3 separate regions of the Homo sapiens genome follow, and regions 2 and 3 are each linked to region 1. The links come from fine-mapping of genetic effects on gene expression. A gene starts in region 1. Each other region holds a variant in brackets. All regions are shown on one strand. Distances are between the middles of the regions.

Region 1 (10,829 bases):
TCAAGCGATTCTCCTGCCTCAGCCTCCTGAGTAGCTGGGATTACAGGCAGGCGCCATCACGCCCGGCTAATTTTTGTACTTTTAGTAGAGATGGGGTTTCACCATATTGGTCAGACTAGTCTTAAACTCCTGGCCTCAAGTGATCCACCCACCTCGGCCTCCCAAAGTGCTGGGATTACAGGCGTGAACCACTGTGCCCGGCCAAATTTAGTACTTTAAAAAACATTTAAAAGTCTGTTTCTGTGGGTCGGGAGTTTGGGTATGGCTTGGCTGGGTGCGCCTGGCATAGTCTCTCACGGGGCCACGATCAAGTTGTGGGCTGGGGATGCCATCAGCTAAAGGCTCAATTTGGTGAGTATCCTTTCTAAGCTCATGTATGTGTGGGTAGTCCTTAGGTACTCACTGGCAGCTGGTAAGAGATGTTAGTTCCTCGCCATGTCTGTAATGGACTGAATAGTATATTGCCCCAAAATTCATGTTTGCACAGAAGCTCAGAATGTGACCTTATTTGGAAATAGGGTCTTTGCAGATGTAATTAAGATGAGATCGTGCTGGATGATGTTGGGCCCTAAATCCAACGACTGTTTTATTAAGAGGAGAGGACACAGAGAGACACACAGGGAAGGCCATGTGAAGACAGAGGAAGAGCCTGGAGTGATACAGCCAAAGAATGCCAAGGACTGTCTGGAGCCACCAGAAGGAAGGAGTCTTCCCTGTAGCCTTCAGAGGGAACATGGCTTTGTTGACACTTTTTTTTTTTTTTTTTTGAGACAGTCTCACACTGTCGCCCAGGCTGGAGTGCAGTGGCGTGATCTTGACTCACTGCAAGCTGTGCCTCTCGGGTTCACGCCATTCTCCTGCCTCAGCCTCCTGAGTCGCTGGGACTACAGGAGTCCGCCACCCGACCTGGCTATTTTTCTGTATTTTTAGTAGAGATGGGGGGTTTCACCGTGTTAGCTGAGACGGTCTAGATCTCCTGACCTCATGATCTGCCCAACTCGGCCTCCCAAAGTGCTGGGATTACAGGCATGAGCCACCGTGCCCCACCACTTTTTTTTTTGAGATAGAGTCTCGATCTGTTGCCCAGACTGGAGTTCACAGGTGCGGTCTCCGTTCACTGCAACCTCTCTGCCTCCCGGGTTCAGGTGATTCTCCTGGCTCAGCCTCCAGAGTAGCTGGGATTACAGGTGCCTGCCACCACCACTGGCTAATTTTTTTATTTTTATTTTTAGTAGAGACAGGGTTTCACCATGTTGGCCAGGCTGGTCTCGAACTCCTGACCTCAAGTGATCTGCCCGCTTTGGCCTCCCAAAGTGCTGGGAGTACAGGAGTGAGCCACAGTACTCGGCCTCTGCTGACACATTCATTACAGACTTCTAGCATCTGGAGCTGTGAGGATAAACTTCTGTTGTTTTAAGCCACCCAATTTGTGATACTTTGTTACAGCAGCCTTAGGAACCAAGTGAGCTGGCTTCCCTAAGAGCAGATAAGTAAAAGAGTCAGAGAGGGCCCCAATGGAAGCCAGAGTTTTTCTGCTACCTAATCTTGAACATGACATCTGTTCACTGAAAGCAAACCACTTGATCCAGACCACATGCAGGGCGAGAGGACTACATAAGATCATAAATACCAAGATGTGAGCATCACTGGAGGCTGTGAACCAGGGCTGCCACACCAGCAAAAAACAGAGGAATTTCATTGGAAGAAACCGCTTTCTTCAGGGTTCTGCCTTCTCCATTCATTGATTCCTTCGACAAATAAATTTATTAAGTACCTACAATGGACTGGGTATTAGGGACATATGACCAATAAGACAAATAAGATTCTTTCCCTTGTTGAGATTATTTAGTTACAGGATAATAGGAACATCTGATTTAGATTAGGAAAGGAGGGTATGGGCAAGGCATGCCTTTCTGAAAAAACATTATCAAGAATTGGCCAGGTGTGGTGGCTCACGCCTGTAATCCCAGCACTCTAGGAGGCTGACGTGGGCGGATCACCTAAGGTCAGGAGTTCGAGACCAGCCTGGCCAACATGGTGAAACCCTGTCTCTACTAAAAATACAAAAATTAGCCGGGCGTGGTGGCGGGTGCCTGTAATCCCAGCAACTCGGGAGGCTGAGGCAGAAGAATCACTTGAACTCAGGAGGCGGCGGTTGCAGTGAGCCGAGATCGCACCACTGCACTCCAGCCTGGGGGACACAGTGAGCCTCCGCCTCAAAGAAGAATAAAGTTGAAGAATGAGTAGAAACCAGGCTGTGTGTGTATGTGTGTGTGTTATGAGGGAAGCATGAGTTTCTAGGTAGTGGGAAAGCACGTGCAAATAAGTCGGTAAGTTGAACAGCTAGACTAAAAGCTGCTTGAGAGCAGGGACCTTGTCTCTTCATTGCTGCATCTCTATTATACGACATCATCTCTGCATCTCTATTACAAGACATAGAGCCTGGCAGAGAGAAATTCTTACTGGATGAAATGAATGAATAAATCCAAGGCATCTTCTATAGGTTAGTGCAAAAATGACTGCAGTTTTTGCCATTATTTTTAAATGGCAAAAACCACAATTACTTTTGCACGAATATTTCCTGTTACAGATGTCAACTGAAGTCATTTAAAAATTTTCTCCCAAAGTTCATCGCGGGATCATTGCTCTTATTCATATTAGGTAGCATAGGCAAAGCTGCTAGAACAAAAGACTCAAAGTAAGTAAACGGTCAACACAAGTTTATTTATTCTCACATAACAATACTGAGTGGATATTTAGGTCAGTAAGGCACAGTTCTCCTCCACTTAGGAATCTCCCATCTTCAGGCCTTGCCTTCTCCAGAGCCTGGTCACCATCTGCTTCCAGTTGGCAGAAGGAGTAACAGCACAGGGGAGCACCTGTTGGAGGTCTGTATGGGCCAGGCCTGGAAACTGCACACCTCTTCTGGTCACTTTCCGCTGGGGAGAGCATAGGCACAGAGCCACACTTAAATTTTACTTTGAGGAATGCAGTGTAGGTGTATGTCCGACAAAGAAAACAATAATTCGGTAGACAAATAAGTCTCCACTCCAATATTCAATTACTTACTTAACTTATGCTCTGGTATGTCTCAAATTAACCTAGATAGAAATGAACTCTGAATCTTCCACTTCCATCAAGTTTTTCACTCACTCAATGGCATCATTATCCATCCAGTTGCTTAAGCATACATTTGAAAGTTATCCTTGGTCTGTTTCTTATCCTTCCCTTCCACATCTAATCCTTCAGGAAGTCCTGACAATGTTACCTCCAAAATATGTCTTAAATCCATCTTCTCAGCCAGGCACGGTGGCTCACGCCTGTAATCCCAGTACTTTGGGAGGCCAAGGGAGGTGAATCACTTGAACTCAGGGGTTGGAGAGCAGCCGGGGCAATGTGGAGAGACCCAATCTCTACAAAAAAAATACGAAAAATTAGCCAGGCATGGTGGCATGCGCCTATAGTCCCAGCTACTCAGGATGCTGAGGTGGGAGGATCGCCTGAGCCCAGGAGGTCTAGGTTGCAGTGAGCTGTGATCACGCCACTGCACTCTAGACAGTGGGACCGTTTAAAAAAAAAAATCCATCTTCTCTACACCTTTACCGCCACCTCCTTAGTTCAGACAGTGTAATAATCTCTCATCTGCATTATTCTCCAATAGCCTCCTAATAGCTCTGTTTCCATTCTTGCTTTCCTATATTCTATTCTCTACAAAGCAGAGTGATCTTTTAAAACAAATTTGTTCACATCACTCTTTACTTTAAAACCTTACAATAGCTTAGAATAAAATCCAAAGTCCTGATTATGACCCCCAAAGGCCACATATGATGCAGCCCCTGCCCACATCTCCAACCTCATCCTTTTTATACTTTTTTTTTTCTTTTTTTGAAATAGAGACGGGGTTTCGCCATGTTGGCCAGGCCGGTCTCGAACTCCTGACTTCAAGTGATCCGCCCGCCTTGGCCTCCCGAAGTGCTGGGATTACAGGCGTGACCCACCGCGCCCAGCCTCCAACCTCACCCTTTATCAGTCTCCTCCTACTCGATCTACTCCAGCTACAATGACCTTCTTGCTGATTCTTGAACATATTTAGCTTATTTCCACCTTAAAATTTCTACCCATCTGCCCAGAAATCTTTCCTTGGATTTCCAATAGCCAGCCCTTTCTCATTCCTCAGGGGTCTCAGCTTAAATGTTACCTCCTGAGATTCCTTCCTTAATCATCTAATACGAAGAAGTCCCCACATCCAGTTATTCTCTTACCTCAGCATCCTGTTTATGTTCTTCTTAGCATCAGACTCGGGCTTTTTCCTGTTTATTACCTACTTCGTTTTCCTGAAAGATCCATGTGCCGGTACCATGTGTTGTTCCTACTGTTTCTCCAATGTCTAGTAGATTTGGCACATACTGATGTGCAATTAATACGTGAATGAAGAACCATTGACAGACGATTAGTCAAAAGCTCTTGCAAAGCCCTTTGATAGGTTATCGGTGGAGAGTAGGGAGCACAAACCTGGGGTCCCATTCTAGCTTGACCACTTCTCGGCTGTGCACAAACTAGTCTAGCTCTCCTGAGCCTCAGTTACCTATTTTGCAAATTAGGGATGGGAACATCCATACCTCACGACGCCAAACGGCTACCTTGTAAAGACGAAAGGAGGAAATGCAGGAAATAACTCCACGTAAGGTTAATGCTCCGTAAACAGAGCTGCTACTGCTATTATATATTCTATACAATCCTGCGCCCTTAACGGCAGGACCCTTTCAGTGCTTCAGTCCTGTCTTCTCTCTCCTGGGTTGACCTCCACAGATCCTCTCAGAAGAGCGTTTTCCAGGCGTGAATCTCCGCAGAGTGGAGATAAAGGCTGAGGCCCCAACGCACGCGCACTCACGCGAGTCCGGGCCTATGACGTCATTAGCGCAGCGCCATCGCCGCGGAAGGCCCAGGGGCCTGTCCTGTATGCGGCGTGTCTTAGGGAGGCCCAGGCGGACGCCTGCAAGTCGGGTGCGCGGTTCGGGGGCGGCTCGGAAACCCCAGCGGAAGGCAGCAAGGGGCGCGTGGGGCCGTGGAGTCACGAAGCTGGGCGGCAGGAGGGGCGGCCTGGAGCTCCCGCGGGGCACAGCGCGTGCGTGAGGGCGGCCGGCGGGGCTGCCCGGCGCGGGTGTCCCGGCGATGTGTGGCGCTGAGGCGGCGGCGGGAGCAGCGGCGCCGAGCTCTGCTTCGGCTTCGGCTTCGGCTTCGCGGCGGTGCAGGCGGCGGAGGCGGAGGCGCAGGCTCTTCTTTAGGACCTGGCGAGCCCAGGTCTAAGCGGCGGCCCCGCGAGGCCCTTGCACGGCGCCCCGGGTCGAGGCCCTCCCCGCCTCGCCCTACCCCAGGAGCCTGCCTCCCCAGCTGGGGATGAGGCTAGGAGGCGGCCGCGTGGGGCCCAGCACAAAGACCTGTCCCCAGGGGCCGCCGCCTCCGCCGCTGCTGCTGCCGCCAGCCTAGAGCCGCCCGCCGAAGCAGAGCCGGCGCCGGGGTCCTCATCCCCACCGGTCCCGAGGGGCGGCTGCTGCCCGTCGCCACGAGGCCCAGGGGCCCGAGTGCCGAGCCCTTTGCTCCCTCGGCCGCGCGGGGACAGGGCTGCTGAGCAGCCTCCGCCTCTCCCGGCTGTGGGGGCCCCACTGAGTATGTCGGAGGAGAGCGACATGGACAAAGCCATCAAGGTAAGGGGGAGGTGCCCCCTCTTCCCCCGCGTTGTCCTGTGGCGTTCTTCTCGGCTCTAGCCTCAAAAAGCAGGGAGATTTTGCAGTGAGAGGTTCCATCGACTACCGGGTTTCGGCCTCCCCCGGATTCCGTGGATCGCGCTTTACAGCCCTGGGGCCAAGGGTTATGGGTGTGGGTGTAGGTGTGTGTCCGACTCCCGCCAGCTTCCCTGGTGAGTGTGATTTGTGCTCAGCTGGAACAGAGGTGAGTGGCCTGGAGACACTATTAAGTGTCAATGAATGGGACGAAGAGAGCCCTACTACTACTACTACACGTTTCGATCACTCCCCAAGGCCGCCAGCATTTGCTTCCGGATGGTCTACAGAACTTGGAGAGTTGGAATTTATCCATCCCTCCCGATTTGTTTGAAATCAGCCTTCTGGAAATCTGCAGTTGGAAAAAGGTGGTTCGCCGTACAAAACCTGTCCTTTGGGGAATAGGTTGTCCTCACTTTTCCGTGTATTCTCCCCTTTTTCTTTTTCCTCTTCTTTCTCCTAGGAAGCATTGAGTTTACTTAGGAAAAGTTAACAGTTCCTGTGACTTAACTGCACTTAAACCAAAAGAAAAGCAAATGTGTGTTCGAAAATTACACAAATAAAATAAGTTTTCTAAAACCTGTTTTTAACTTTTTTTTTTTTTAAAGGCACATTTTGCCCACTCAGGGCCAGTTATCTGTCTTGACAGCTGTAGCTAAGAAATTAGTCTTATGAAAATTAAACATTGACGCTTAAAGTTTGATGTATTATTTACTTATTTGTAGTGTTAAGTCAGCCCAGTGCATTGAATAATTTCATTTTATCTTGAAGGACAGGCATCTATTGGCAGCTTGGGGTTATTTTCCCCTTCAAGACAGTTACTAGTAATGATTAAGAATTTACATTTCTACCAATTCTTTAGGTGGTGTATATAGTTTCTCAAAATCATCAAGTCATTCCAAAGAAACTTAACCCTTTAAAGGAGGCATCAACATATAACATATACATTAAGGAAGACCAGGTTTTTTGTCTGTTTGTTTGTTTTTGAGACGGAGTCTCACTCTGTCGCCCAGGCTGGAGTGCAGTGGCCCGATCTTGGCTCACTGCAAGTTCCGCCTCCTGGGTTCACGCCATTCTCCTGCCTCAGCCTCCCGAGTAGCTGGGATTACAGGCGCCCACCCACCACGCCCTGCTAATTTTTTCTTTTGTTTGTATTTTTAGTAGAGACGGGGTTTCACCGTAATAGCCAGGATGGGCTCGATCTCCTGACCTCGTGATCTGCCCGCCTTGGCCTCCCAAAATGGTGGGATTACAGGCGTGAGCCACCGTGCCTGGCCCAAGGAAGACGAGGTTTTAAATCATAAAGATTCTAAAAGACTGCCTTGACATATCCTTCTTTTGTTTTGGGTTTTGTTTTTTTTTTTGAGTCGGAGTCTGGCTTTGTCATCCAGGCTGGAGTGCAGTGGGATGCTCTTGGCTCACTGCAACCTCCACCTCCCAGGTTCAAGTGATTCTCCTGCCTCAGCCTCCCCAGTAGCTGGGACTACAGGCACGTGCCACCACACCCAGCTAATTTTTTTGTATTTTTAGTAGAGGTGGGGTTTCACTGTGTTAGCCAGGATGGTCTCCATCTCCTGACGTCATGATTTGCCCGCCTCGGCCTCCCAAAGTTCTGAGATAACAGGTGTGAGCCACCGCGCCCAGCCTTGGTTTGGGTTTTATTGGCACAGAGGCATGATATGCCGCCTGAAGTTATTTAATTGGGTTGTGAATCAAAGCGTATGTGGCCAGTTTTTAAACATTGTCTCCTGTGTGCCAGATGGTGTCCTAGACACAAATGGTACAAGCCAGACTCCTAGATGTCCCTACTGTCATGTAGCTTATATTCTAGAGGGTGGGGTTACTGCTAGGTGGTTTTAATTAAGTGTGGAAAGGGTGAGGAGTACTGTGTTAAATAGGGTAGTCCGAGGAGGTGACACTGTAGAGTTCTGATGGAAATGCGAGAGCAAGCCACCACTGTCTCAGGGAAGAGTATAACAGGCAGTGGGAATAGCAAGGACAGACCTTGAGGTAGAAGCAGGTGTAGTGTGATGTAGGAAGAGCAAGGTGGCTGGAATGCAGTGGGTCAGTGGAGATGATGTAGAGCAGCAATGGGAAGCAAGGCACTTAGGGCCTTGTAGGCCATCGTAAGAACTTTGGGTTTGACCCTGATTAAAAGGGGAACTATAGGAGAGTTTTGAACAGAAGAGAGACATAGTTCCAGGAGATAAGTATACAAATAGGGCAGCAATGTCACTTAGTGGTTGTTATAGCTTCTCTAGGTAGACTCAGTTGAAATCTCACCCTATGTTTTTTTTTGATACAGAGTCTCACTCTGTCACCCAGGCTGGAGTGCAGTGGTGTGATCTCGGCTCACTGCAGCCGCCTCCTCCCAGGTTCAAGCAATTCTTGTGCCTTGGCCCTCCGAGTAGCTGGGACTACAGGCGCACACCACCACGCCCGGCTATTTTTGTTGTTATTGCTATTTTGTTGTTATTGTTGTTATATTGCTAGAAAAGATGGGGTTTCACCATGTTGGCCAGGCTGGTCTCGAACTCCTGACCTCAGGTTATCTGTCCGCCTTGGCCTCCCAAAGTGTTGGGACTACAGGCATGAGCTACCACGCCCAGCCCAGCGTTTCTATTTTATTAGCCGTGTGTCTGAGTACGACATCACTTCACTTCTGTCTCGTTAGTTTCCTCATCTGTAGATGGGATAAAAGCACTCCCAGCTTATAGGGTTTTTTGTTGGTTTGTTTGTTAGTTTTTGAGGATTAAATGAGCAGATATACCCAAATGTGCTTATAATAATACCTAGGCCAGGCACGGTGGCTCACACCTGTAATCCCAGCACTTTGGGAAGCCTAGGCGGGCGGATCACCTGAGGTCAGGAGTTGGAGACCACTCTGGCCAACATGGCGAGACCCCCGTCTCTACTAAAAATACAAAAATTAGCCGAGTGTGGTGGCACACATCTGTAATCCCAGCTACTCAGAAGGCTGAGGCAGGAGAATCGCTTGAACCTGGGGGGCAGAGGTTGCAGTGAGCTGAGATCATGCCACTGCACTCCAGCCTGGGCGACAGAGTTAGACTCCTTCTCAAAAAAATAATAATACCTAACAGCAAGAGCTCAATGAATATTAGCTCATAGCAACTTAAGGGTGCTTTAGAAAGAGTTGTTTTTTTCACTTGACTCTTGCCCAGCCCAATTTTCTTAAAATTTTTTTAGCTTTTCTTCACTCAGAAGTACTCAATAGGTCATGGTGAATCTACGCTAATTTGGGCATTTCCAGCCAATACCTATTGGTGGACTTGAAAATCAGTACTGATTAGGATGTACTGCTTTGGAAGCAAGCCAGCATTACATCAAATAAAAAACATTTGGTCTGTGGCATTGTGTTGTATTCATTGTTTTGCTTTTTGGGGGGTGTTCAGCAGATGGTGAGCACTGAGACAAACCTGTAGTGTTCAGCTGGAAAGCTATTTTCCTGGCCTCCAGCCACAACACTTTAACTCTTGCTGCCAGACTACCTGAGAGTGGGTTGATTGGACTTTAAGATCTCATCCTCCCTTATCCACGGTTTTGCTTTCCACAATTTTAGTTACATATGGTCAACTGCAGTCTGAAAATATTAAGTGGAAAATTCCAGAAATCAATAATTCATAAGTTTCTTTTTCTTTTTTTTTTTTTTTGAGACGGTCTTGCTCTGATGCCCAGGCTGGAGTGCAGTGGCGTGATCTTGGCTCACTGCAGCCTCTGCCTCCTGGGTTCAAGCAATTCTTCTGCCTCAGCCTCCCGAGTAGTAGCTGGGATTACAGGTGTGCACCACCATGCCTGGCTAATTTTTGTATTTTTAGTAGAGACGGGGTTTCACCATGTTGGCCAGGCTGATCTCGAACTCCTGACCTCATGATCCACCCTCCTCGGCCTCCCAAAGTGCTAGAGTTACAGGTGTGAGTCACCATGCCTGGCTCTCATAAGTTTCAAATTAAGCACTATTCTTTGTAGTGTAATGAAATCTCTTGCCATATTGCCTGGGACATGAATCATCCCAGCATGTTCACACTGTATATGCTTCCTATCCTGTAGTTACTTAGTAGTCATCTTGGTTATCAGAACAAACAGTATGTATAGGGCTCACTACTATCCAAGATTTCAGGCATCCACTGGAGGTCTTGGAACATATCCTCCCTTATCTGTGGGGACTACTGTACTCTTAAAAACTTTAGGATAAGGGGCTGGGCGTGGTGGCTTACGCTTGTAATCCCAACACTTTGGGAGGCTGAGGTGGGTAGATCATTTGAGGTCAGGAGTTTGAGACCAGCCTGGCCAACATTGTGAAACCCCCATCTCTACTAAAAAAAACAAAAAAAAATTAGCTGGGTGTGGTGGCAGGTGTCTGTAGTCCCAGCTACTCGGGAGGCTGAGGCAGGAGAATCACTTGAACACGGGAGGTGGAAGTTGTAGTGAGCTGAGATTGCTCCACTGTACTCCAGCCTGGGCGACAGGGTGAGACTCTGCAAAAAAAAAAAAAAAAATTTAGGATAAGGTCAAATGGCTGTAAGTGGAGGCTCTATCTTCTATTCCCTGTATCTTCTATTACCTGTATCTCTAGTCCCATAGCCCCATGACTTTGCTACACCCAAGGCACTTAGCTAAATCTGGAGAGTGGGCATTTTGGGATTAGGGATTCTTACATATTGTTTTCTATTATGTATAGCGAGTCGTTAATATTTGATGGAGTTTGTGAAAATCCATTTCCTTAGTTTTTAAAATTAAAAAAAATTGTATAGTTTGTACATCATAAAAATACCCCCAATATAAATGTACAGTTCAGTACATTCAGTGTAAATGTTCAGTAATTTTTAGTAAATTTATAGAGGCATGCAGCCATCATCACACTCTGGTGTATAATATTTCCATCCCTGCTAGAAAGTTCCTTCTGCCTGGTTGCAGTCAGCCCTGTTCCCATTCCTCGCCCCTTACGGCCACTGATTTGCTTTGTCACTATAGTTTTTGCCTTCTCCAGAAATTATTTCCTTAATAGCTTACCAATTTTATGTGTTTGAT
Region 2 (10,829 bases), 390 kb before region 1:
GGAGAATCGCTTGAACTCAGGAGGTGGAGGTTGCAGTGAGCCGAGATTGCGCCACTGCACTCCAGCATGGGCAACAGAGTGAGAATCTGTCTCAAAAAACAAAAACAAAAACAAAAAACCCTAGAGGATAAAAGAACTATAACATCTGGGATAAAGTTAGCTGTTGAAATAAATACAAGTCCTACCGTTGGGGTAGTGTCAGAGCTGGCCTACGTCTTTGACTTTGAGATTCCTAGCAGCCAGAGCAAAGAAAGAAATAGATTATTCCCACTGGAGCCACAGTGGCCATAACAAACAGAAGCCATCTGTTTAGATGCTGGGAATGGAGAAGACTTGCTCCCCAGAAATAGACGCTGCAGGATGTGGTGGGTGACAGTCTACTGTTCAAACCACAAATACCTGAAATGATCTGGCCACTTTGATCACCCAACCACAGTAGAGCCTAAGCAGGTCCAGGGAGCAGCTGTTGCTGGCCTGGCTTGACTTTTGAGGGAGGTGGAATAGCGGGCATGTGAGAGGAGGGAACCTAAAGCCCCCACAGCTGCTGACACAGCCCCCAGGTTTGAGCTTGTCTCCCCTCTCACCCATCCCCCCATATAGCTTAATCTGATGGGCATCTGGTGGTCCTTCCCTGCAGTGGCCAGAGCCTGAGCTGTCCAGGCTGAGGTTTCGACTGAAGCAGGGGTTGTCCTGCGCCCATGTGCCCACACGCTGCAACCTGGCTGGAGCCTCTGGCATAGGACACCCATACCACCAGGTAGCTGTGGCGGACCCCGGCTCTGATACTTGGCAGGCTTGGGTTGAGATTGTGGCTCTAGGCCTGGGCGGCTCTCAAGGGCTGCTGTGGGGAGTTGGGGAAGAACCCCTGGGTTGTGCTCAGCCAGCAGGCAGGTGGCAGCCAGGCTGGCTGTGGGTGAGGAGGGGAATCCTCTTTTCACCACTGCCTGCCTGCTCAGCAGTTCTTCAGCTGCTGGGGGTGGAGCTGGCTTGCAGGGGCCAGAGTCAGAGTGAAACCGGCAGCTCTGCTGGTTAATCTCAGCACTGACACTGGGGACTAGGCCTGGAGCGGAACTGAAAGGGAGACTAGGCCCGTTCCCCTCCAGGCCTGGCCTATATCCTCCCAGTGATCCTTAAGGCCTGCAGCTAGGGGGAAGGGTGGGGGCCAGGCAGGGCCAACTGGAAAAGTAGCAGAAGGAAGTGGCCACTCGCACCTTACCCATCTTGCAGACAGGAAATGAAGGCTCTGCAGGGCTGGCTGGCTGTAAAAATGGGCAAGAGCGCAGAGGCCCCACTCCCTGCACACTGCGCTGTGTCCAGTGCCCGTGTGGATGCCATGTGAGGCCTCACTCTGCCTGCCTCATCCTGGCTGCTGGACCTCTGGGAGTAGGAGGTGAAAATGCCCTGGCTGGTGCTGGTCACTTCAGGCTGGAATTTTCTAGTCATGCAGCTTTCTAGTGAGAGGCCGCAGTGAGCTGTGGCCAGTGTTGGTCATTCCTGCAGTCATTACTCTCCCCCAGCCTGTTGTGTCCGCCAACCAGAGCAGGCCCGGGAGCTCCCAGGAGACCTGCTGGAAGGGCCCAGGTGGCCATCCTGCTCCTGCCAGGCTGCCCTCTTACCTCACTGTTCATTGACTCTCCTGCAGGTGGGGAAGGGGGATAAAGGAGGTGGCCAGGCCACTGGGTCATGATCCTTCCGACAGAGGTACCTGGCAGCTCTGTGTGTAAAGCAAGGTTAAGCATCTGGTTTTGGGGGTCAATTCAACAGCACTAGCAGCTCCAGTCCAAGGTATGCCCTTTTGGGCTGAGGTGGAGGTCAGATCACCTGAAGCCACAGTTGCTAGAACATCCTTTGGGCTGCCTCTGCTTTCCATCCCCCTGCTCCCAGTTTGTTAGGGGTTGTAGTATTTTCCAGGAACACCTGAATGGAGGGGGCCCAGTGGGGCCACTTCTGTCCATTCCTTATCTCATCTCTTTCTCCCCTTTTCTTCTTTCGGCCATCTTTTCAGTCTTATCACAAGAGGAAGGGGAGGGGCAAACCCCCTCCTGAGCAGATTCCCAACCGGAAGCAGCTGGCTCCTTGGCTGCAGAGTGCCCCAGCACAGGAAGCATCTGCAGGGTCAGTTGAGACCTGGGAGCAGGTTTCCTGCTGGCAAAGGAACAGTGGCTAACTCCTATCCACCCTGCAGCCCTATGTGCCGGGTGTCCTGGGAAGGTCCAGGGCCAAGATTTTGTGGTTTTACAGTGGCTATAACTTAGGCTAGCCATGCTAGGCTCTGCCCCTTTGGGCTTGGTGTGATGAGACCGTCAGCAGCTGCTATCACCTGGCTGGGCAGGGAGCTGTTTGCTCACCAGTGGGAAGAGAAACGGATGTCAGACACATGGCAGAGTGGGAATGTCTCCAAGTCCAGGTCCAATGGGCTGGGAGGGCTGGCCTTCTGCCAGCACATGCTTCTTGGGATCTCAGTGTGAATGGTGTTCAGGAGGCTAGGGGAAGGCACCCTGGACCTCACTACAGGCTCAGAGCCTGCCCAGCAACACCATGGATACTCTCTCTAAAAGGGGGACTCCTGGGGAGACTATAGACAAACTCAGGCCTGGCTGGAAGAAAGAGCATCAGGAACAAGCCTTGAGTACCCCAACTTGGTCTCGTAGAGTTCAAGGCCCAAGCTACAAGCAGCTTGCTCCAGCATCCAGGAGGTCCGGTGGTGCACACGGCTTGAGATGCCTGACAACCTTTACACCTTTGTGCTGAAGGTGAGTGACAAGGCTTTTCACACCCTGGGGCAATACAAATACATACACATACAGCAGACCCAACCCTGTTCCCTTCCTCCCTGCCAGGTGAAGGACCGGACAGACATCATCTTTGAGGTGGGAGACGAGCAGCAGCTGAATTCATGGATGGCTGAGCTCTCGGAGTGCACAGGCCGAGGGTGAGGTCCTGGGCCCTCGTCCCTGGCACCACCTTTGCTGCTACCACCCCTGACCTGCCCAGATCCTTAACCTCAGCCTCTTCTCCAGCAGGCTGGAGAGCACAGAAGCAGAGATGCATATTCCCTCAGCCCTAGAGCCTAGCACGTCCAGCTCCCCAAGGGGCAGCACAGATTCCCTTAACCAAGGTGGGTAAACCAATAGCTAGGCCATTGTCTTCTGGGTACGCTGGAACCCAGACTCAGCCCAGGACATAAGGTAGCCCCCTGCGACCACCATCACCCATCTTATCTAACAGGTGCTTCTCCTGGGGGGCTGCTGGACCCGGCCTGCCAGAAGACGGACCATTTCCTGTCCTGCTACCCCTGGTTCCACGGCCCCATCTCCAGAGTGAAAGCAGCTCAGCTGGTTCAGCTGCAGGGCCCTGATGCTCATGGAGTGTTCCTGGTGCGGCAGAGCGAGACGCGGCGTGGGGAATACGTGCTCACTTTCAACTTTCAGGGGATAGCCAAGGTATGGGGTGGGGTGGGGTGGGGTGGGGCAGGCAGGACCGTGCCACCCCTCTCCACTGGAGTTCAGGGTCCTAGAGGGACAGCCCGAGCCCACCATCCTCTCCTCCCACAGCACCTGCGCCTGTCGCTGACAGAGCGGGGCCAGTGCCGTGTGCAGCACCTCCACTTTCCCTCGGTCGTGGACATGCTCCACCACTTCCAGCGCTCGCCCATCCCACTCGAGTGCGGCGCCGCCTGTGATGTCCGGCTCTCCAGCTACGTGGTAGTCGTCTCCCAACCACCAGGTCTGACCCTACTGCCCTTTGCTGAAGGGGGTGGCTGACACTGGGTAGAGGGTAGAGGCTTGCTGCAGACCCAGGGGTACAGGTATCTTGTTCTGTGTCCTGTCAGCACTTGCCTCAAGACTGATGGTGTGGTCTCTCTTGGTCACTTGTCCTAGGTTCCTGCAACACGGTCCTCTTCCCTTTCTCCCTTCCTCACTGGGATTCAGAGTCCCTTCCTCACTGGGGTTCAGAGTTGGGCCTTCCCCACCTTAGTTCTTCTGGCTGTCCCCGGGGGCTCAGCCCAGAGGGTCTCCCAGGGCGATCCTCACCCCCCGAGCAGATCTTCCACCTGGTGCCTTCGCCCGAAGAACTGGCCAACAGCCTGCAGCACCTGGAGCATGAGCCTGTGAATCGAGCCCGGGACTCGGACTACGAAATGGACTCATCCTCCCGGAGCCACCTGCGGGCCATAGACAATCAGTACACACCTCTCTGACCAGTGAGGAATTCCAGGCCTCAACAGCTGCCCTTGAGGAGCACAGGCAGAAGTGTGAACTTGTGAATGTAATTGATCTTTCCTTCCTTCCAGAGAAAGATTTAAGGGACACTGTTAACTGCTCGTGCCAGTTTGGAAGTGACCCTTCTATTAGGCCTGTTGAAGGGCCCTCCTGTAGGTTTCATCTATCCACCTGGCTTTCTCCTTATTGTTTACAGATGTAGTTCTTGTTAGAGGATGCCGCTAGCTCCTGCCC[G/A]GGGTCCCTATGCCCAGTCCCCGTTACTCTTAGAGAAAGGAGTTGGGGTGAGGGCCAGAGCTGGCAGTGGAAACTTGTTCTCTTTTTCACTGACACTGTCACAGCGGATGACAGACTTTCTACGGGGAGGAGGGGGGGATCATCAGGAAGCCCAGAACACTAACAAGCGGTTCTCCCATCTACCGTCAGTCCACATGGCAGGTCTGCTGTGTCCACACCACAGATGACCACATCTAATCCTGCTTCTACTCTCAGCTTTAGGACAAAAGCTCTGTCAGAGGCACAAGCTGAAGGTCAAAAATGATTTAAAACATTTTACCTCAGACTAATTTCTTTAAAGGATTCAGGTTCAAAACTTAACCACTGCTTATTTCAGTGCACTGTTTCAACTAACACCCATGCTATTTTTGTAGTCAGAAACAGCTATGCAAACCCTACCTAATTTACAGTCTGAGCCAGCATGCTGGCTTGTCTACTGCATCCTCGGGACAGTCACCTGCCACTGAGTGGCCACTGTCCTTCCTAAATGTCAAGAAGTGAAGTATGTCACCCTTTCAGGGAAATTCAGGCAATTACTGAAATAGGAGGGTGGCAAGAACAGTTCTATCCTGGTGCCTTACGAATAAAAAACTGGATTCTGGTTTACAGCAGCTTTACAGTGATAGTTAAATTAACTGGGGCTAGGGGAAGAGCAAGCAAAAAGGGAAGAAGGACTCCTAGGCCCTTTCTAGTAAATCCTTCAGCAACAAGGCTGGCTTGGTGCCCTCCAAGCATCTAATGGCTTATTAAATTATCCCACAAGTGGGTTTTAGGCTCCTTTTTTGAGCCAAAATGGAAGCTGGGAATCTGGTGCCATAACTAATGAGAAACTCCTTTAATAGCCCACAATCAGTGTTCTGTTCTAGCTGGCTACTGCTTCACTGGATTGAGAATCTATCTATCTCCTTGCACACATGGGCACACACAATCTCCACCATCCAGGGAGGTCCTGAAGTCAAATCTCTATCTATACAAGTGATACAATTCATAGGGGGCTGGCTCCTCCCAGAACCTGTCTGGAGGCTCAGAAACGGGGGCAGTGACAGTGGAGTCAGCTGCTCTTGGGTGCCAGCAGAGCCATTCAGTACAACCCCCAGGCTCACAGCAGTGGCTTCTAGGAAACTGGGAGTTTAGATCAGCTTTACAGATACATCGATCAGAGGCTAAAATGAAACCTCAGCCTAAAACTCATAGGACTGACTGCCTGGGAGGAGGGTTAGGTCTGCTTCTTCCACTTATACTTAGTCTCTGTGCTCCAAGAGGTCAAATTTTTGCTTCTAGAATTTCCTTGGGGTCTTTCAGAGGGTGGGGGAACAAACCCCTATGCACTTTTCTTTTTTTTTTTTTTGAGATGGAGTTTCTCTTGTCAACCGGGCTGGAGTGCAGTGGTGCAATCTTGGCTCACTGCAACCTCCACCTTCCTGGTTCAAGCGATTCTGCCTCGACCTCTCAAGTAGCTGGGATTACAAGCACCAGCCACCATGCCTGGCTAATTTTGTATTTTTAGTAGAGACAGGGTTTCACCATGTTGGCCAGGCTGGTCTCGAATGTCTGACCTCAGGTGATCCACCCGCCTTGGCCTCCCAAAGTGCTGGGATTACAGGCGCGAGCCACCGCGCCCAGCCTACACCACTTTTAGTACCAACACTCTTGGGTGATTTCATGGACCCTAAAGCAGACCTGACACTGATCCAGATTTGCAGTCCATTTTTAAGGACACCTGTCTTTATTTCCTCAAAGTCAAGCAGCTTTCTCTGGAAAATGAATGCTAATTAGTGTGAACCAAAAGAGTAAGTAAGAGTCTGAAGTTTTTTTAAAGGAGAAAGCTTATTATGGAAAGTCACTGGTCCTCCCCTCCGCACAGGAAAGGTACCCAGTAGATAATGAACCAAATTAAGTTCCCTCCCTCCAGCCAGAAGTTAAACATCTGGGATATGACGTCTTCATGCCAGGGGCACTCATTTCTTAGCAGCCTCTCTACATACATCTCTCAGGTGGTGCCAAGAGGCACACCAGGTAGAGCAAACTTAGCAGCTCTGACTAACAGGCTGCAAAGTGCAAGTTCAGATTCTGTGGCAGAGATTTGGAAGGCACCCACCTCCAGACTGCTTCCCGTCCAAGTTACCAGGACAGCTCAAAAACATGCTGACAGAAAACTCCCATGGCTCTAGGAAGAAGTGACACTAAGCCAACACCTTTCTTTATGTGGGAGCAGAATCAGCTGATGAAGGGGTGGGCAGCAGTGTGGGGCAGGCACCCCACTGGCTGCAGCTAGCCCACCATAGGCACAGCACATCCCACCACTCTCCTTCCAGTCCTGACCAGGCCCCAGCCGGCAACTTCTACCGAGAGCCATGGCTCAACACCAAACTGGACAGTAGACATCATGATCCCTCCAGTTAGCTCTAATTACAGACCCCACCAGTACAGCTTGACAGCTCCCGGCACCATCCCTTCCTTCATCTGACTTATTGAACTTTTACAAACTAACAGTCACCAGCACCAAAGAATTAAGTCAACTAACCTGCCTTGAATTTTAGACCAGCAATCCATATGGCTTTATCTGGTATAAATCTTCTGCCTTTGATCATTTCTGGACCGTAGGAAAAAGGAATAGCAATCATTAAAATCTTGGGCCAGAGAACACTATTTTTACATAACAGTTTCTTAACCTAAAGTCAAGGCCTTGGACTCTTCCCTGAGGGTTGCCTGAGATTCCTTCATGCTTTCTATTCAGGACTAAGTCCCTTACTGCAAATGTGTTAGCTCTAACATCTCCCACAAGCTAGAGGAACTTGCGAGTATATTAACAAGGACACATCTGACATCCTGTGTTTGGTTAGAATATACAGCACATTGTGATAACATAAAGTGGATTCATCTTGTATCATTATAGGCAGAAGGTATTTGGCAAATTTTTATGTATTGTTTTATGTACTGTACAAGTAACTTATTCTTGAATAATGCAAATTTTGCTATAATGTACAAATTGCTATATGTGAATTAAAAAGTTTTCAGAATCTTGATTTGCTGTCATAATATTTAAAGGCTCTATTAAGACCATGGTGTCTCTACAAAATCCTTGCCCTGCCCAAATACTCGCTCTTCCCTTTGTCCTCCCCGTTGCAATCTGGGAATACTAACAAATGCTTATGAGTCCATCCATGTCAATAAGCAGCTTTGTACATCTTTGTATCTTTTCAGCCTTCATGCCCTCTGGATTTCTTTATTGCAATTTTTTTCTGAGTGTCTCCTGCCCCCTACTGGTAAAGTAGAAAAATGCCCGAATTGGGAACTTCCAGCTAATGACACTCATTTTGGTTCAGGAGATATTAAAAAGGAAGCTTACAGAATCGGTGTCAGCCCGAGGATGTGGAATTTCAGTGCTGCCCAACTCTGGCCAACCTTCCTCCTCCTGAAGCAGATCTCTAATCCACCAAAGAGAATAGCTCAGTCTTGTCTTTTTCTAGAGATACCTTGAACCAGAACTAAGGGTGAAGAAGAAAAATCATTTCACAGCTACCTTCCGGGATATTCAAAATGCACCCTTAGCACACCTGCTTTGATATTAAGTATCCTACAAAGAAGTAGCTTATACAGACACACACTAACTTGATCAGTTTTTAAAACTTTTTTTATTTTTTAAATTTTTTTTAAGTTTTTATTTTATATTATCTACAAAGTAAAAGTTTTTCCCTTAACTTAAAAGTTGAACCACTGTAGACAGTGATCACCTCATCAAACTTGATTTATAAATAATAATCCGTCAGTTTGACGGTAAGAATTTACTGAAACTTTGTCAAGTTTAGTAAAAGGGCGTTCCAAGTCTTGATTTTTTTTTTTTTTTTTTTTTAGCAGTAATAGCAGCAAGAATCACTCTTGTTACTTCTTTTGCTAGCTGATGTGTTCATGACTTTCAAGGGTTATTAAAAAATAAATAACTTCCAGTTTCGGCAAGCAGAGCTGGGGTACCTGCGGGACTCTGAAACAGCATATGGAATTATGGAATAGCCCCCAAGTTCCTAAATGCCTCTACTCGGTCCAAGTATCTTCCACTGCAAGTGAACTGTTAGCATTCCTATTGGATGTTACAAGAAATCAACATATATATTTTAAAAACAAAATAAATGAAATTCTAGTTTTCTGTGCTTCCAGTTGGTAGAAGCAGTAGAAGGGAGGAGGGAATTTGGCCTTTCGGTTCCTCCAGGGCAGCCTTACAACTGCTGTTGGTGGTGGGCTTGTACTGTAAAAAGAAAAGCGAACATTGAAACAGAAAACTGGCAACACCACACATCAGCCTAGTGTCTCTGCAGCACATGATTGTAAACTATCCTCGTGCTAGCTGAACAAAACTCAAAATTGAATTCGCTTTTCCCCCTCCCATCTGCACCAAAGTGGGGAGGGTTGGGTGGGTGGGTAGAAACAAACCAGTCAGACGTAAAACCACTTCAGATAAAACTCCCAGAAGACTTGTTCATGGGGTAGAAAAAAAGGCCTTAACAAACCCCCTCCCCAAATATTAGCCAAGCACCAGTATTGCTTTCAGAATAACAGGTCAGACTGTGAAGTATCGCCATGGCAGCCATCAAGTAGTAGAGCACAATCACAGGGCGCTCTCCCCTGTTCAGGGGCTGGGGCTAACGCTACACTCAAAGCCAGTCCATCCACAGCGCTTTCTCAGCAGTATCTTCTCCAGAGCTACAATCAAACTCTGCCATGGTAATAACCCCCCACATGTCAGACTTTTGGGACTCAGGAAGGAAAACACTGCCCTGTCCAGCCTGTCATAACAAGGAAGGCCAACTGAGTCCTAGGCATGCATCAGGCTGCTGTTGCTGCTGCTGCTGCTTCTCATCAAGCCAAATCCTGTATACCATCAGAACACACACAGACTCGGCTCCCGGAAGCCTCAGGCCCTGATGCTGAACTGATCGTCACAGTCCCTCCTGTGCACACTCCTGGACGGGTCTTGCTAGTTCTCAAATGCGGGGCTTGAAGCACTGGCCCTGCCTGCCATTCCACCTGTGCGAGCAGAATGCTTTGGGGTGCCCCGGCGGCCCCTGCACACACACGCCTCACCTGAAGGGTGCGTCATATAGGGGAAATGCGCTGTTGTCGAGACTGGAATGGGCTGTAGTGCACTTTGAGCGAGGGCGGCCTGGGGACCGCCGGGTGGCTGTGTCGTCATTAGCATCATTGGCGCATGGGCAGTTGGATGAGAAGGAACCATTCCTGACTGTACATGAGCCTGAAACAGAGAGCTCTTTTACGCATACAGGCAACATCTCCGGCTTCAACAACATGTCAACTGTGTTCCTTTCACTGGGCTGGGACTCTCAGGAAAGGGCAACGGTGGGCCTCAGGGCCCAGTTCTGTTCTCTGGGGACAATCTCTAGTAGATTATCTATTGACCTGAAGACGCGCTTCACCTTTGGGCAGATCCTGCAAGGGTCAGGGAGCAGGCAACAAGTGAGCCTGGGTAGAAGTCAGGGCTGTGCTGTCCTAACCCTTGACATTTCTGATCATTGTATTCTATGTATGGGGTAAGATCTTCACAAAGATTAGACACTGGATCCAAGGGCAGCTTTCTCAACTTAATATCATACAAGATTCAATGATGCTTCAGAATCAGGCTGCCATGTGGGGCCTGAGGTAGTTTTGCAGATAACATCCCTTTCAAATAGGAAAACAGATTACATTAATAAGCAGAGACTGTCACAGTCAAGTATGTGAATTACTTGGACCTCTGTTCATTTGCCTCTCTCCCTCTGCTTCTGGTCTGCTCACCAGGCAGTGAAAAGAGACTCTTAGGCCCCCGTGACTCTCTCAGAGATATGCTGATGGAGCAGGAGGAGGAGGAGGAGTTGGAGTTTTTAATGGCTCCAGTGAGATGGAAAGGAGTAACCTGAAGTCATCTGGGCCAGCCCAGCGTCTCTGTACCAAGTTCAACCTGGTCTCACTCACTGTCAAGTTGGAAAGGTGATTTTAGTCAGCCCAAACAGCTGGATTCCAGCTCTGCAGGGGGTTGGCAGGGCCAGGAAGAGCCCTTGTTTCCTTTTTCCCACACTGTGCACTGTTCTAGACTACGATAAGCCTTGGATGAAATGCCGTTTTTACTCTCACATATTCAAACGGGCACATGGCAAATTTGAGCTTCCCTGTGTTAACCTTTTTGCCCTTTCAGCACAAAAACAGAGTGAGGTTTTAGGGATCCCTGACTTACATGTAAGTTCACATGCCTACTTAGCCACCAGCCTCTGGTAGACACCTACAGGACCCCAGCTCTTATGAAGCTGACTCCACCAAACCACGCTGGCCCACACGGACCAAACC
Region 3 (10,829 bases), 670 kb before region 1:
ATGGTAAGAGAGAAGAAGGACAGCTCACAGGGGGTCAGATCCAACAGAAAGAGATCAAACCCTGCCAAGGTTGTTTGAACTGCTGGATCCAGCCATACCTGAAACTACCTTGGCACCGTTTGGCTATATAAGCAGCAGTTTCCTTTTTATGCTTAAGCCACTTTGCATTAGGCTGCTGCTGCTTACAACTTGAAGAGTGCCAAATAATACAGGACTCTTCTCCTTCATCCCCCTGAATCCAGCCAGGAGGAGTCACTTGCCCACTTATTTCTGCTGACTCACGCCCACCCATGCTTGCCAGGGGTCAAGTTACCCAGGGGCGTTCCTTAGTCCCCAACATAGAACCATGCCCCACACCTACTTTTCCTCTAGGAGTTTAAATCATTTCTCTTTTCTTTTCAAGGTTGTATAACCTTGAGCAGGTGACTTTGTCTCCATGAACCTTAATCCCTTCATCTGTCAAATGGGGCTAATCATTGGACCTAGGGCATAGGGTGAGTTAAAAAGATTAAATGGATTAATATCTCTATAGCACTTAGAACAGTCCCTGGCATGTAGTAAGTACTGTCTAAGCATATGCTGTTATTATAATACTACCTGGAAACTGAACTCACAGACTCTCTGGGGGTTTTCCTGCAAAATGGAGGGAATTGTCAGCTCCCTGAGGCTGAGATTAGGGCTTCCCATATTCCCAGCACCCTTCCAGGCCTGGTATTGAGGGGACACTTGGTGTTTGTTGAGTAGGAGTTAGAACAGGGGCGGGACATGGTGGCTCATGCCTGTAATCCCAGCACTTTGGGAGGCTGAGGCGGGTGGATTACTTGAGGTCAGGAGTTTGAGACCAGCCTGGCCAACATGGTGAAACCCCGTCTCTACTAAAAATACAAAAATTAGCTGGGCGTGGTGGCACGTGCTTGTAATCCCAGCTACTTGGGAGGCTGAGGCAGGAGAATCACTTGAATCTGGGAGGTGGAGGTTGCAGTGAGCAGAGATTGTGCTATTGCCCTCCAGCCTGGGCAACAGAGTGAGACTCCATCTCAAAAAAATAAAAAAGAAAAAAAAAGAGAACAAGCAAAAGACAATAACAGAAAGTGAGCATGAGGGATCCACACAAATTGGATCAGCCCCCCAAGGTGTTCGTAGTTAGAAGTCACGCAATAATTGCTTTGGGAGTTTATGAAACCTTGAGGCACAGAGGAATGTTAGGGGTCCCATGAGCAATTTGGGGATGTGAATGTTGGGGATTCACATCCTCACTGCTAACAGTGTGATGTTACAGTGTGGTCCACAGTAGAACTGAATTGCTCATTAGAAATACAGAGACTTGTCCCTGCCTGTACCCCCTGTAGCAGAATCTGTACTTTAACAAGATCTCCAGGTGACTCGTGTGAAAATTAAAGTTTTAGGGCCAGCCATGGGGGGGAGAGGAGGAGGACAGATCAGAGGGAAGCAGAGCCAAGAGACAGAAATCAAACCCTGCGAATAGCATTTGAACTGCTGGATCCAGCCATACCTGAAGCCACCACTCCACTGTTCAATTATATGAGCAATGGATTCCCTTTTTTTCTTAAGCTACTTTGTAGATGCTGTCAGAAGGGCCTCTGTGTCGTAAGGGACTAGGGGCTATTTATGCGGGTAAGGATGGGGTGGAGGCTATGATCCTATATGCCATTTTATTAGGAAAACATTTGGTGTTTAGCTCTCTGGGTAGGGAAGAGATGCATCTTTCTGCCCCCTGAGAAAAGAGAAGTAGGAAGGTCATGGAGGGCCATGGTGACCCACATGGCAGGACGTCTTCAGAGCCAAACCAGAGTGACCTCATTGAGGCAGTGGCCTCCAGAAGTTGTCAAACAGAGTTAAGCACAGAAGATGCAAGGGTTTGGTGGAGAGTGGACACAGACTGTCGTCTGTCTCTACCAAGACGGTCAGTGTTATTGTCTCATGGCGGGGAATTTGGGCCACGTGCAGAGAACATGAACTTTAAAATCCACACAGAACTGGACTCAAATTCTGGTGCTGCTGCCACTTGCTCACTGTATGACCCTGGGTGAAGAAATATGTGTATCTGGGCCTCATTGTCCTTGTCTACAAAATGGGGGTAAAAATAGCACTGACCTCATTGGGATGTGGAGAGTGTTCGTGCAGCAGTGACCAGAGCTGGTGGGTGAGAACCAGCTATAAGCATCGCCTCCCAGCTCCACGTGTAGTGACATCACAGCAGGGCTTGAAATTGACCATGGTGGGAAAATGTACACCATGGAAATGGTAAATATCAGAATTTGTCCTTTTTCTCCAGAGAGCTGGTTGTTTAACATTTACCAGCATCCTACTGGTGAAATGCCAAGACGTATTTAAATTGCTATCCACAGTGTTTGGTGGTGGTGATTACTAATTACGATTATATTAAGCATGTTACTCTAATATTACTAATATGAAATGGTTTTCATGATTGCGCTTTCAGTGTGTCCACTTTGACTCTTTTTTGTTGTTGTTGTTTTTATAGACTGGGTGTCTCGCTGTCACCCAGGCTGGGGTGCAGTGGTGTGATCACGGCTCACTGCAGCCTCAACCTCCTGGGCTCAAGTGATCCTCCTGCCTCAGCCTCCTGAGTAGCTGGGACTATAGGTGTGCACTATCACACCTGACTAACTTTTTTCATTTTTTTGTAAAGACGAAGTCTCGCTATTGTTGCCCAGGCTGGACTTGATCTTCTGGCCTCAAGCGATTCTCCTGCCTTAGCTTCCCAAAGCACTGGGATTACAGGCGTGAGCCACTACGCCCAGCCTGCGACATTTATTTTAACTGCTTGGAAGCCTTTTCTTCTAACCCTCTGGCTCCTAGCTCCATTCTGGAAAGCTGACATTATCAGTTAGCTGAGTTCTGAGTAGACGACATACCGTAGATGGTAATACCCAAACTAACATTTATTGAGCATGGACTAAGTGCCAGGCACTGGAAAAGCACTTCCTGCAGATATTCTCATTTAACCCACCCAACAACTCTATGAGGTATGAACCCCATGTTGTGAACACAGCCCGAGGCTCAGAGAAGTTAAGTGACTTGCTCTGGTTTGCACAGCTGCTTGATGGAGGGGCCAGGCTTTGAACCCTCGCATTTTGACTGTAGAGTCTGTGCTTTCATCAGGAGGATCTGCAGAGGCTAAACGTGGAAGGGGCCGGTGTTTGGTCCCTGAGAGTGGACCCTCCTTGCTGGGAGGCTTGGGCGGGGGTAGCGGACACTGCCCAGGACCGAGAAGTCCTGACGGCATCATCTGCTTGGCGAACAGCAACCGTCCAACTTTCTGGGACGCGTGCCGGCCGCATTCTGATTGGCGAGGGGATGTCTCTGTTGGAAGGGAATCTTGGCCACTTGCCCCTTGGCAGCAGGCTGCTGGCTGCCACGTGGAGTGCCGTTTGGAGGCGGTGGGAATTATTCGGCAACCTTGCCTGGGATAGCTTGGAATGGATTGTGGCAGGGCAGGGCGGGGGCTCTGCCAGTCTCCTAGACAGGCTGGCAGGGAGAGCGAGAGCGCCAGCACTGTCACAAGAAGCTCACAGTCTCAGCTTCTGCACTGTCCTCCCTGCCCCTGTCTGTCTCTGTCTCTTGCTATCCCTTGGCCTCTCTTTCTGCCAGGACTTGAGCTGACAGGTGGTTTGGCACCAAGGGAAGCACCATCCCCTGTCCCCACAGGCCTTCTTTCCTTCACCTGCACTGAAGCTTAGGGGCTTTTGCTTCTTCCACTGTTCCCTATTTCCATCGAGATAAAGTTCACACTCCTTGACTTGGCTCGAAAACCTCTTGTGATATGACCCCTGCCTCTCGGTTCTGTAGCTTGTGCCCCTAAGTAGACCATGGGCTTCTCGAGGGGGAGGGCCTGTTTCATCCTCAACTTTTTATTTTTCTGTAATGCCTAGCCCAGAGCTCACTCAGAACAAGTGGGTGAACTTGAAAGGCAAGGAGGGGTGACCCCCGTCCATGGTAGAAGGGACCGAGTCACTTCAGGATTTGCAGTCATAGCCTGTGCTGCATCTTAAGGCAGATTTACCACGTTGTCAGATGCCATGCAAAGCTCTAAGTTTTTTCTGTTCCTATCTCATTTAATCCTCCTAACAATCCTATTAGGTTGGCCCTGGGTTTGTTTGTTTGTTTGTTTGTTTGTTTGTTTGTTTCTTTTTTGAGATGGAGTCTTGCTCTGTTGCCCAGGCTGGAGTGCAGTGGCATGATCTTAGCTCACTGCAACCTCTGCTTCCTGAGTTCAAGTGATTCTCATGCCTCAGCCTTCTGAGTAGCTGGAATTACAGGTACACGCCACCACGCCCAGCTAATTTTTGTATTTTTGTAGAGAAGGGGTGTCACCATGTTGGCCAGGCTGGTCTCGAACTCCTGACCTCAAGTTAACCACCCACCTCTGCCTCCCAAAGTGCTGGGATTACAGTTGTGAGCCACTGCGCTCAGGGTACGCCCTGTTTTATCCCCATTTTACAGAGGAGGAAACTGAGGCACAGAGAGATCACCTAGAGAGGGCAGTGATAAGATTTGAACTCAAGCCAGTCCGGAGCCAAGCTGGCTGGAGTGAAGTCTTTCTAAACTGCCCTGACAGATGTGCACCGTCTCAGCGCCGTTCCTCCCCAACCCATTTCCTGAGGCCTCATCAGACAGCAACCCAGTTTGTGGCTCCTCACCTCACCCCAACTCTGCTGTGTTCACACATCCTTGATGAATTAACCTGGGCAACACCAGCCCTGCCTGTCACACTGATAAAGGTAGAGCTGTGGAGATCTGGGTTGCAGAAGATGTCACAAGCCCTTCTCTCTGCCTGTCACCTGTCCCCTGCAGATTCCAGGGCTGCTCAGAAGTTTTGGAGAATAGCTGGAATGATCCTTATTGATCTGATGGGTGGGTGTTTGGAAACAAGGAGAGACGCACTAAGTTGGTTCCTTCCAAGCAGGACCTCCCACCACACCAGAACCTCGTCCCGTCGGTCAAGGGTGGCCCATGTGGCTCAGCATGCTGGGGACTGATTGTTTCCACGTTCCCTAGCTCTGCCTGACAACAGAGCGACATTCCTGTGCCATCACAGGGGAGAGTCGCATTGTGTTAGTGACTCCCCATCAAACTGTGTCATATTGGGATTGTATTGTATTCATAGTTGTTTCCACTAATGTGATATGAAAGTTACTAATCGGAGAAGACTCCTGCATTGTATTAGGGAAAACAAATATTAATATGAGTCGATGGAAGTAGCTAATAAGAAACGCAAGTTGCTAATAGGACATGATGGATCAGTGGGAGGAATTTGGGTCGGGTGCTTGAACTTTTGTGGAATGCTCAGCCGGGTGGGGGTTGCAAGATGGCAGGAACTCTATGTTATAGTCGCTCAGAGTATGAAGGTCCATATCAGAGCCCCCTGCCTGCCCCCTCCCCCCACTGTCATCACTACCCCTCCATCTCACCTCTGTCCTGCATTGAATGGCATCCGCCAAAATTCATGTCCACCTAGAACCTCAGGGTATGACCTTATTTAGAAACAGGGTCTCTGCAGGTGAAATCAGTTAAGATGAGGCCATACTAGAGTAGGGTGGGCCCTAAATCTAATGACTGATTGTACTTGTCAAAAGGCCACATGAAGACAGGGACACTCAGGGAGAAAGTCATGTGATGACAGAGGCAGGGATGGGAGCGATGCCACAAGCCCAGCAACACCAAGGATGGCCGCGACCACCAGCAGCTGGAGGTGGCGAGGAAGGACCCTCCCCTGGAGCCTGCAGAGTGAGCGCAGCCCTGCCAGCCC[A/T]CACCTTGATTTCAGACTTCCAGCCTCCAGAAGCGGGAGAGAAGACATTCCTGTTGTTTTAAACTCCCCTAGTTGGTGGTAATTCATCACAGCGTCCGTAGGAACAGAACCCCCTTTCCCCACCATGCCCCAGAAAAGCAGGGATGGCCACAACCATACTCGTTTTATTCAAAGATAGCCAATCGGATCAGGGACATTCTTCCACCCTCAGCGGGTCGGCCTGGCTGCCTAACCAGCCCTGAGGATGGAGGGCTGGCTCTCTCCCTGACTTTGTTCTTTTAAAGAGGAAAAAGCCTCCTCAGTGGCAGGGTGGTTGGCATATGGGCTCCGCAGCCTGCTTCGCGTCACGTTAATATGTGATTAAAGGGGTCTTAAAACGCCCATTAGTCCCCCTCTGGTATCTAATAGCGCTTTTGGATTTAGAACAGAATATTATTTACTCATTAGCTGATAATAGACCCTGAGTACACGCCTTATGTATTGGGACAATTATTAGAGTCGATTACACACAGAGACGTGGTTCTGCTGGGGTGGCTGGTGGCAGGCCAGGGTGGTCCAGAGGGCATGAGGGTGGCAGGGAATGACTATGGGCCATATGTGGACAGCAGGGAGCCCGCTAGAGATTGTGTGTGGCAGCTGTGGATGGAAGCAAATTCCCTGTGCAAACAGGGCCACTGGATGCCCCATGCAAGGTACTAGGGGGAAGAATTTAAGGAAACTGCCTCCAAGAATTGGGGTGCCAACAGTAACAGCCCCTATGCAGCAGTAAGGGATTGCACTTGAGCATTCGTCCTGAGTCTCCCAGGATGAGAGTATTAAGAACAATAACTGGCCAGGCGTGGTGGCTCACGCCTGTAATCCCAGCACTTTGGGAGGCAGATCACCTGAGGTCGGGAGTTCAAGACCAGCCTGACCAATATGGAGAAACCCCTTCTCTACTAAAAATGCAAAATTAGCCGGGAGTGGTGGCACATGCCTGTAATCCCAGCTACTCGGGAAGTTGAGGCAGGAGAATCACTTGAACCTGGGAGGCAGAGGTTGTGGTAAGCCAAGATCATGCCATTGCACTCCAGCCTGGGCAACAAGAGCAAAGCTCCGTCTCAAAGAAAGAAAGAAAAAAAAAAAAACTGCCCCCACCGTGGATCACAGGATAGGGTGATGTGCCCAGGATACACAGCTAGGAAGTGACTGAAGCTGGATGCACACCCCCAGCTCTTCTTTTTTTTTTTTTTTTTTTTTTTTTTGAGACGGTGTGTCACTCTGTCACCCAGGCTGGAATGCAGTGGCACGATCTCAGCTCACTGCAACCCCTGCCTCCTGAAACCCAGTTCTTCTGATGACAAAGCCTGGGTTCTTTTCAACATCCTCTCCACTTGCTGCAGAAACTGCTCAATGATTCCAGTCTTCCCCATTCTCCGACAGAAAGAGGAACTTTGACATCACTTCCTCTTATGTGTGGTGTGTTGGAAAGATGAAAATAGCAGGTTGTTCCTCTCCGTGGCTGGGTCCCTGACCTCGGGCCCAGCGTGGTAGGAAGGCCGAGGTGGAGGGAATAAGCATGTGGAAGCCATGGGAGTGTCTCCTGGGAAGCGGGAGAGATTAAGGAGGGATGGACCGGGCCCATGTCTGGCATCGGCAATTCTGGTCAAGGTGCATGGGAATGGGAGGGGAGTGGGGAAGCGCCAGGTAGGGTCCAGCAAGGTGTTCTGGTTGCCCTGGTGATGCCTCTTGGGCTGTGACCCAGAGTGGCGTTGGCATCCAAGGAGAGAATAGGTGCTGGTAACACCTGGAGTCATCCCAGCAGGTGTCAGTGGCTGATTCCACTTGGGGGTGACAGAGATGGAGAAGTTGGGCAACCCCCAGTCTGATGGACGGGGTGCAGAGTATGGAAGGAAAGCCTCGAGTTTGACCTTCACACACACCTTGACCTTGTTGGCAAGCCCGATCTGCAGGTCATCAGTTTGCAGTGATTTTGCCAGTGAACACCTGAGCCCCTTAGTGCATTGTGCAGCCTGCTGAGAGCACCAAAAACCTCCCCTTAATACCCAGACTCACTGCGGCTTTTCTGAGACCGGCCAGAAGGACAGACGAGAGGGGTTTCTTATGCACCAGTGGGAGTGGGTCTCTCTCTGACCCAATGCAAGCAGCCCGGAGACATCTTGCTTCCTTGTTTCCATGGCTTGTGGGGAAACCCCGGTCCCGTGTCCCTGTGCACGCAGATGGCTAGTGGCTCAGTGGGTCTCCGGAGCACAGCCACCTGACACATCTGGGGCTATGGGACGGAAAAGCCCAGAGTGCCCTCTCTGAGGAGTCATCCCAGCCTGTGGCCACAGTGATGCTGAAGGGGTTTGCAGGCCATAATTAGGGGCTCAGTGTCACCTTTGTCCAGTGCCTGAGCTGAGAACAGGGCTCCCTGGTGAAAGAATGGCAGGGTCCCTTTTCGCCTCCCGGGGAAGGAGCCGGAGAGAAGGCAGAGCTTGGGAAATTGGCCCTCTGTCTTCTCCCATCCAGATATGTGGGTCCTGGGCCTTACCTGTACCAAATAAATAACCCATTTCCCAATGGGCAGGCAGCATATGCACTCTCTGTGTGTGCGTGTGCCTGTGCCTGTGTACACGTGCGTGTGTGTGCGTGCATGTGCATGCACCTGTGTGTGTGTGCATGTGCCTGTGTGTGCGCATGTGTGTGCATATGCCTGTGTGTACCTGTGCCTGCGTATACATGTGCATGTGCACACGTGTGTGCATGCACCTGTGCGTATGCATGTCTCTGCGTGTGCATATGCTTGTGTGTGTGTGTGCATGTGCCTTTGTGTGTGCATGTGCCTCTGTGTGTGTGTTTGTGTGTGTATGTGCATGTGTGTTTGCCTGTTTTTTAATAAAGCTCACCAGGAGCCAGATATCAATTTCTGTCAGAGAGACGCAGAGCATCTGAACCAGAACTAAATAAAAATAAACATTAAACAATTATTGGAATTTAGGTTTATTTAAAAAATCAGCAGGGTTGAGGGAACCAGCCACCCATTAGCGAGGCAGAACTATCGGGCCTTTTAACAACCCGCTGGTTCTTGGCTGCCAGAGAGATTTGGGCTGTCCAAGCTGTAGAAACTCCAGATCCTATTGATTAAAGATGATGCAGTAACGAACAAATTATATCATCGTGGCTGCTTGTGGTGCTGGCCAACACTGGCTACCTGTTTGTCTTGATGGAAATGGCTCTATCTGGGGGACTCCGGGAGGGTGGTTCAGTGTCCCCATCCCAGCCAGCGCTTTCCACTCTGTGCAGTTCCTGCAGCTGGGTGGAGGCTCCGAACCTCGAGCTGTCTGGGGTTCTTGTGTTTTTCTCCTCTCTGTCCCTTCCATGGACATCTGTAGTTTAAAAGGAGTCTGTGTCTTGTCAACCAAATCAATGCAAATAACCAGTGAACGTTTCTCGACTTTTCAGTAATAATTGATCTTCCCAGAACTGATATCGTTTGGAAAACGTAAGTAAGGAGATCAGCAGTGAGCCAGATGTCCACACTAAGAGAATATAACTGCTCTGAGTTATAGGAAAAGAAATGATTTCCCTTCCAGCTTTAGCTCCAAGAGCTGAGCAAACTGCCGTGCAGCATCGAGAAGCTTCCAATAAACTCGGGGCTTAGTTCGAGGCAGCCTCAGCCTCTCAGCCAGAAGACTTGGGTGAGTGCGGGACTGGAATCTTCCAAGCTGATGGGCAGACTTCTTGCCTGCAAATTTTTGGTCTCTAGGTTTTTATCTGGAAGCTGTCTGCACAGCCAGTTGCTGTCAGGGAGAGAGAGGTTTGTTGTTCTTCTTGAGGGATGTTCAGGCTTAGACCCTGAGCTGGGCATCTACTGCGTGGGAGTCTCCCCTTGGCTGGTTCTTTGGTTGATGTTCTTGTTGTTCTAATTTGATGGTCATTCCCATACATTGCTGTGATTGGCTCCTGACTTGACCAGGGTGATACTCAGAAAGTCAAATGGGGACGGGGACAGGGTTGATCTGTGGGCTGGTGGATGGAAAATAGGATGCCAGGGGGCACTTTCTTTATGAACACTGTCATTCTTCCAGAACTCATTCATTTGTTCATTTGAGCATTCATTCATGTGCTCATGCAACATATAGTTCCGGGGCACCTACTCTCTTCTAGGCACGATGAGGTGCTGGGCGCACAGGGGTACCTGCCCTCCTGGAGCTTTTAGTCTAGCTATGAAGAGGCACAGACTTGAAATAGTTCCTGATGACATCACAGTTGCCATAGTGCTTCATAGAGGTGAGGAGGCAGCAGCAGGGGCTCACGACAGCAGGAAACTGGCCTCATGTTGGGGTGTTGGTCTGCTGGAAGTAATGTTTAAGCTGCAACTTGGCTGAGGGGTAGGCCTGAGTTAGGCCATTGATTTTCAGACTTGAGCATGCATTTAAATCACCTGAAATTTCCTTGAAAAAAATCGCCAGGCTCTACCCTCAGAGTTTCTGATTCAGTAGGTCTGGAGCCCGTCCAAGAATTTGCATTTCTAACAAGATCCCAGGTGACACTGATCCTGCTGGGCCAGAGACTTTGGGAACCACTGAACTGGGCAAAGAATTGGGAGGAGAGGGCATTCAGGTAGCGGAAACTGCACGTACAAAGGTCCTGGGGCTGGTTTGGGCTTGGCAGTTTCCAGGAACCAAATGAAGGGCCAGAGGGTGGAGCAAAGCACAAGGACTGTGGGAGGAAATGCTGTAGAGAAGCAGGCAGGGCCCTGACCACACAGGCCTTGCAGACTGGGCTGGAGAGTTCAGATTTGATCTGAAATGGAATGGGGAGTCCGGGGAGGTTTTAAGCAGGGAAGTATCAACATCCAGTTTACATCTTGAAATGCCCTGTCTGGCTGCCAGGGTGGAAGTGAGATGGCAGAGAATTGCATGGAGCCAGGGAGGCCCCTGCAAGCATCCAGGCAGGAATTGGCAGTGACCAGACCAGGCTGATGACAGCAGGCATGGAGAGGCACGGGACGTGTCTGAATGAGTCCACGCTCCTGCTTTCCAGGAAGTTTTCC

Evidence for each region.
Region 2: its variant is fine-mapped to the expression of MAPKAPK5-AS1 in whole blood (TOPMed, PIP above 0.99).
Region 3: its variant is fine-mapped to the expression of MAPKAPK5-AS1 in whole blood (TOPMed, PIP above 0.99).

What each region holds. Positions count from the first base shown.
Region 1 is chr12:111,837,065-111,847,893 of GRCh38, forward strand. It overlaps MAPKAPK5-AS1 (MAPKAPK5 antisense RNA 1), which reads right to left and starts at 5,941. Exons shown (of 2, transcript NR_015404.2): 1 at 4,263-5,941; 2 at 2,703-3,413. It overlaps MAPKAPK5 (MAPK activated protein kinase 5), which reads left to right and starts at 5,164. Exons shown (of 14, transcript NM_003668.4): 1 at 5,164-5,705. The coding sequence starts at 5,670. RefSeq lists enhancers at 4,740-5,019, 5,750-5,849 and silencers at 5,050-5,229, 5,310-5,659, 7,341-7,509.
Region 2 is chr12:111,444,102-111,454,930 of GRCh38, forward strand. SH2B3 (SH2B adaptor protein 3) reads left to right here. Exons shown (of 8, transcript NM_005475.3): 3 at 2,652-2,753; 4 at 2,841-2,932; 5 at 3,024-3,118; 6 at 3,229-3,443; 7 at 3,555-3,726; 8 at 3,882-7,522. The coding sequence ends at 4,201. ATXN2 (ataxin 2) reads right to left here. Exons shown (of 25, transcript NM_001372574.1): 24 at 9,576-9,744; 25 at 8,113-8,739. The coding sequence ends at 8,711. It overlaps LOC124903019 (a long non-coding RNA gene), which reads right to left and starts at 644. Exons shown (of 2, transcript XR_007063462.1): 1 at 1-644. RefSeq lists enhancers at 164-283, 1,034-1,303, 4,424-4,493. The variant G/A (reference allele first, on the strand shown) is at 4,458.
Region 3 is chr12:111,163,537-111,174,365 of GRCh38, forward strand. The region is part of intron 1 of CUX2 (cut like homeobox 2); the gene reads left to right. Among named protein-coding and RNA genes, the nearest start is that of CUX2, 130 kb to the left of the region's middle. The variant A/T (reference allele first, on the strand shown) is at 5,792.